Linked DNA regions of Homo sapiens: region 2 is linked to region 1. The links come from fine-mapping of genetic effects on gene expression. A gene starts in region 1. The other region holds a variant in brackets. All regions are shown on one strand. Distances are from middle to middle. Region 1 holds the start of ACOXL-AS1 (ACOXL antisense RNA 1). Region 2 has its middle 54 kb from the start of BCL2L11.

What was found. PIP is the estimated chance that this variant, and not a neighbour inherited with it, causes the effect.
Region 2: its variant is the best candidate, but not a certain one, in a credible set for the expression of ACOXL-AS1 in gastroesophageal junction (GTEx, PIP 0.66).

What each region holds. Positions count from the first base shown.
Region 1 is chr2:111,114,547-111,117,463 of GRCh38, forward strand. It overlaps ACOXL-AS1 (ACOXL antisense RNA 1), which reads right to left and starts at 1,042. Exons shown (of 4, transcript NR_122074.1): 1 at 974-1,042. All of the region lies in intron 17 of ACOXL (acyl-CoA oxidase like), which reads left to right.
Region 2 is chr2:111,173,894-111,176,810 of GRCh38, forward strand. No RefSeq gene overlaps it. Among named protein-coding and RNA genes, the nearest start is that of BCL2L11, 54 kb to the left of the region's middle. The variant G/T (reference allele first, on the strand shown) is at 1,531.

The DNA of each region.
Region 1 (2,917 bases):
TCTTATGCTGAGAACAGGGGTGAGACATATGGGAAGAGGCAGGAAAACCTTCTGCATGGAGTCCTAGGAATAGCTGGGGTGTCCCTCCAAGTGTACTGGGCACTTCCCACCCTGAACATCTATTATAGGACTAACACCATGCCATGCTGGGAAAATATGGTTTGTTCAGAGGACTGCAAAGCTTAGTCACTGCCCATCCTTGGCCATCCTACTCTCCCAACTGAAATAAGGAAACTGTAGGGAGAGTCAAAAAGAGCAGAAAAATAAATTGAGTACTGCAACTAGATGGAGGTGGGAAGCCAAACTGATGTTACAATTTTTCCCTCACTCCCAAATATACATATTAATATAGTCAAACACAGTGTCATCCCTTGAGGGCTGAGTGCTTCTGCTTTCTTTAAAGCAGATATTCTCAAATTCCACTCACTGGCTATTTCCAGTGGACTGTACATTCTTATTGCTTGTAGAGCAATAGTGCCCATGTTTAGGTTTGACCTTAAAAAATGTTTTTGCAAGAACCTATAACTTGTTCATACTTTTTTATTTTTAAAGTATACCTATTCATTTGTCTTTTTCAAAAGCTGGTGAATTTTCTTTGTAAAGATATGGGTAAGCTTGAAGTACTTTGTCCAGCATAAATGGGTCATAAACTGGCAGGGCAGAGGACCCCTACACTATGTGCAATTTTTATGCTTATAGTATGGAAGCATGTTTGGTAACAAAACTAAACTTTAATAATACACTGCTTAGCCCCATATAAAAATACCCCCTGGTAATAAAAATACTGTAACTGTGTAATAATCAATGCTATATTATCTTCTCAAGTTTATTTTGTATTAAAGAGATCATATATTTTTAAAAATTTTTAAAACGCCTCAACAGCTTCACGATGTGAGACCTGTTCCTGTAGTGTGTACCATTAAACCTCTAAAGTCCAGAATTGTACCTAACACTGGGTAGGAATCCAGCATACCATTTGTGAGTGAAAGGATGGTAATTATTATTATCATCTTGACAGCCAGGAACAGAGGTGGGTGGGTACCTGGAATCAGAGTCAAACAATAACTAAGAGTCAAACAATAACTAACAGGAATGATGCCGGATCCGTCCATTGAGACAATAATCATTCTGAGGTTTCTGTTGCAGTCTAGGAAAAATGGAGAAGGCTAGAAGGAGTATTTTAAACTGCTCCAGAACTTTAGATTTAGAAAGAATCTTGGCAGTCAACTCCTCTTCACAGCCAGTTCATTTTTCTTCTCTAGGGTGCCATTGGAGGGCACACTCCCTGAACACTTATGAGTGAAGAAACCCTCCTTTTCACCAGCCATTGGGTTCCTTTTCAAGTTTATTTTTTTAAAATTTTCTTTATATTGAAATCTGCCTCATTTAATTCCTACCTCTGGCCCTACGTTCTGTTTTTGGCACCAGATAGATAAAACCCATACTCTATTTTACACTCATTCAAATCATTGTATTTCCCCCACCGGTGAATATATTACCAAAGTTGGTTGAGTTTCATAATGCAAACCCAAAGGGAAAATTATCTTGAATAATCATATGACAATATGTGGAAAGTTTAGGGGCTGTGTACGCCACCTCATGGTTTTGAACTGTGTGGTTAAAGACGTTGAGAGTTGACAGATTAGTCAGGGATTTTTCAAGAGTATTAATTACAAACTTTGAAATCTTGGTCAGTGAAAGTTCATTTTAGTGCATCTTGCAAATACGATCAAAGGTCTTTTCAGTACTGATTTGATGATGCTTAACCACAGTGTGTGAAGAATGAAGTTTTTCATTAGAAATTACTGGTGTAATAGAGCACATTTTCAGGGAAGATGTATTGTTGGACTATTACAATTCATGCTCTTCCCCCACCATATCCCTACCCTCTATATTCCCCATCCCCTATTTCCTCCACCTTCCTCCTTGGGACCTCACTGAAAACCTGAAATGCTCTGAAAACCTGAAATGGCGTTTTGGACTGCTGCAAGGGAAACTGTGATCTTAACAACATCAGTGCGGCTCAGACATGACCACCATGTGAGGGCAAAGGTGGGGCTGGTGTAAGTGATGTTGTTAAACCTGTAAAAATAAACCATGAAAACCTGGGGATTTACTGTGATTTGGGGAGTGAAACAAATTTACCACTGGCCGAAAACTTGAAAAATGGAGTACAATGTGTAGATCAGAAGAAAAGAAAGCCGTCCCTCTGCCCTTGTGTAGTTTTAGAAAAACAATCTTATTAGTTTGGTAGCTTTTTTTCCTGAAAATAAAAAAAAAAATACATTGGCACCTAAGCCATGGAAAATGAAATAAAAATACACCAGTGCAGCTTCCAAAACACTGACTTGCATCTCCCTCTCCTATCCGCCGGGAATGTCTTATCCCTGCCTTCCAGTGGCTGCCAGAACCAAGGGCATCCGCGGCGTTCCTTGGCATTGGCGTTAACAGCAGATGGATTTTCCGCAGCGGCCAGGCGGAAGATGCCTAGCATTGGTCCGCCGTCTCACTGTACTGAATTTCAAGAATCATGGCCTACTGCCAGCCAGGTCAGGACCGAAGGCGCTAGTCTGGGGAGACTGGAGCAGGTCTCTAGTGGTTCACCTGTTCGGAGGCTCTTCCTGTTCAGTTCCCTCTGCGCGCCAGAGGGTGGCACCCCAGGCACTCCAGAGGTGGAGAGGAGGGGACGACAGGGGAGGCAAAGAGAGAGGAGCGGAGGGAAGGACCAGGGAGGAAGGACCAAGGAGGGAGCTTTAATAAATTCTCAGACCTTGGTCTCGAGTTCCCGGCTAATTTGGGGGCAAAGCCGACCGACCCCACGTCCACGCCCACCCCCTTACGGGAAAAGCCGGGGTTTCCACTGGGCTAGGTGTCAGAGTTGGGAATGTCTAAAACAAAAAAGGCTTCCGAGGGTTAT
Region 2 (2,917 bases), 59 kb after region 1:
AGCTTGCACAGCCAACTTTACACATTTCTACAGCCAAGGATTGATTTGCCTCCCCAGTGAAGATGCAGAACCTTCCCAATTTTAAGTGAGAGCACCTCGGTGCTGCCTGCCCAGGCTCGCCCCTGACCTCCTGGCTCACCCTTGCTCTGGGGGCCTGAGCCTGGAACCCCTTCGGGGACAGACTGGGGATCCAGGCCTCTAACCTCATCCTGGGTAGGTCCCCCAAGGGTGCTCAGAGGTCCCTCAAGGCCCTTCTAACAGGAAAGGGGGCTATCTCCGCTCATGGAGTAGGTTCCGATGAGTCTCTAACTCAGTCAGAAACTCTTCCCAGTGTTACTCGACCATGACCTTCAGGCCAATATGTGTCACTTATTTCTGCCAAGACGCCTGCTACAAAAATCCTTGACTGTAGAAGATCTGGTATATTTTCTTAAAAAGTAAATCAATTCTATTACTTTGAATTCTGGACCCTTGAAAGGGGAAAGTGGTGAGTCAAAGCTTCCTCAGGCATTGGATGACACTTTGAAAGGCTTTCTGAGGGGAAAAAAAATTGCATTTTGTCTTCAATCAGTGCCTATAGAATCTCTTTCTCATTTAAGTGTTGGTGAAAGGATTCTATTGTCTCTAACCCAAATAGTCTAAAAGACTTGCATTCATTCATGTATTTACTCGCTCAGCAAAGGTTCGTTGAGCCTCTATTATGTATCAGGCACAATTCATTCTACATGCTTGGGAATTAGCAAGGACAACCCCCTGCGCTCATGGAGCTGATGTTCAGTGGAGGTGGGAGGCATAAGATAACACGTAGGGGAACCAGTGACCAAGACAGTGAAAGGTGCAGGAAATAAACAAGGCAGAGTGTAGTGGACCAGGTGCGGTGGTGGGACCAGAGAAAGGAAGGCCTCTCCTCTGAGACCTCAGGGTGATCAGGAGCAACCAGAGAAGAGCGGTCCAGACAGAGCCACTAGAGATGTGAAGCCCAGCACAGCAAATGGGGAGGAAGGGGCTGCATCGGGGACATGCGAGGGAGGGAGCCATGGATGGGGGAGATGGGCTTGAGAATTAGGCCAGGCTGCAGGGTGAGGGGGCATGCCCGAGACAGGGCTGGCCCTACATTCCCAGGACAGTGGAGGGCTCTTGTCACAGGAGTAACATAATCTGATAGAAACTCCAGATTACAGGAGACCAAGGGGACATGGTGACTGAATGCAATATACTATCTGGAATTTTCCATTGCTATAAAAGACATGATTGGGGCAGGTGGTCAAATCTGAAGAAAATATGTAGATGTTAATATTGCATCCATGTTAATTTCCTGATTTTGATCGCTGAACTCTGGTTAGGTAAGAGGATGTCCTCATTTTTAGGAGATACACACTGAAGTATTTAGGGGCAAGGGGCAACAGGTAATTTACTCTCAATGTTCAGGAGAAAAATGTGATGTGCTTACATGCATGTGGGGCAGGATGGAATGGTGGCAGTTGGAAGGGAGAAGGATAAAGCAAAATGTGGCAAAATGGTAACATCTGG[G/T]TACTCTGGGTAAAGGCTATAAGAAAAGTGTCTCTACTATTTTGCAAACTTTTTGTGTGTCTGAAATTATTTCAAATAAAAAGTTAAAAAATTAAGAGCTGTGCCTGGATTGTGGCTGTGCCTGGATTGTGGCTGTGCCTGGATTTTGGTCAGGAGTAGAAGTCAGGAGTCCACCCCGGGAGACCTGGGATGTGGACAGAGGGCAGACAGGCTTTGGAGGAAGAGGAGGGAGGACTTCCTGATGTGGAAGGTGAGGGAACAGAAGGAATCAAGGATTCTAAAGGATGATTTGGGTCAGAGCAATTAGCGGGGATGGCGCTTCCTGAGAATAGAAGCAGGAGTGGGAAGTGAGATCGGTTGGGGAGGGGCTGGGGTGGAGGAAGAGTGAATGGAGAGTTCTGTTTTGCTGGACCACGAACTCAACTCAGGGGTTATCTAGAAACAAAGGGCTGTCAATTCATTTTAAAGGGCTTTTTTTTAAGTTGAGTTTCTGGAAAGAAACTCCAGGAAGGTGGACTGTACCCACTGGCTGCTTAGAGAAAGCCTGGAGCATGAATATTTAGACATTTGCTTTAATGAAGCACTCTCATAAGCCGGGGAAACAGGGCCTTGAGCATCTGTTCATGAGAGGTGGATGATGGCCCAGTGGCGCCTATGGAGCATCTATGAACACAGGCCAGACAGGGCACAGGAGGGAGGTCCTCAAGCCTAGAGGATGTTAGACTCCCCCAGGGGCTTTTACAAAATACCCATACCAGAGGCCCACCTCTCTGAGTCTGTGGTGGGGGTGCAGTGTCATATTTTTAAAGGGTCCCTAAATGACTCCAGTGTGCAGCTGGGCTTGGGAGCTGCTGAATGACAGCTTGCTCAAAACTGCCAGGGATGACTCCAGCAGTGGTGGGGCAGCCACAGCAGCATCGGGTCCAGCAATGCTCCCCAGGGACAATGCTCTGAAGGACAGCAATCAGCAAGGTGCTTTCTGTCTGTTTAAATTTCTGTTGTAGTTGCAAAATGATCAATTCTCTTTTCTGTTTCCCTTTGCCAGTTTGCCCTGGCACAGGCATCCATGCCTCCAGCCAAATTCAAGGTGAGTGGAGGACAGAGTGTGCTGTAGGGCCCAAGGCCAAGGCCAAGGCCACGGCAGGGTGGAGGTGAGGTGGCCCCGGGTTGTGAGCCTGGGGAGAGCCCAGTCATCATCAGGTGAGTCAGAGCCTTCAACTGACAAACCCAAAGAACTCAGCGAGCTCAGAGACGGGAGGCGGAGCCATAGTGTGGACCCCAGAAGGGCTAGAGGTAGAACCGAATCTGTGTGTGGCACAGGCAGTGAACGTGGGTGGATCATGCTGTGCTTGAGCCTGGCCTTCCATAGCTCAGGAGAGTGTAGAGT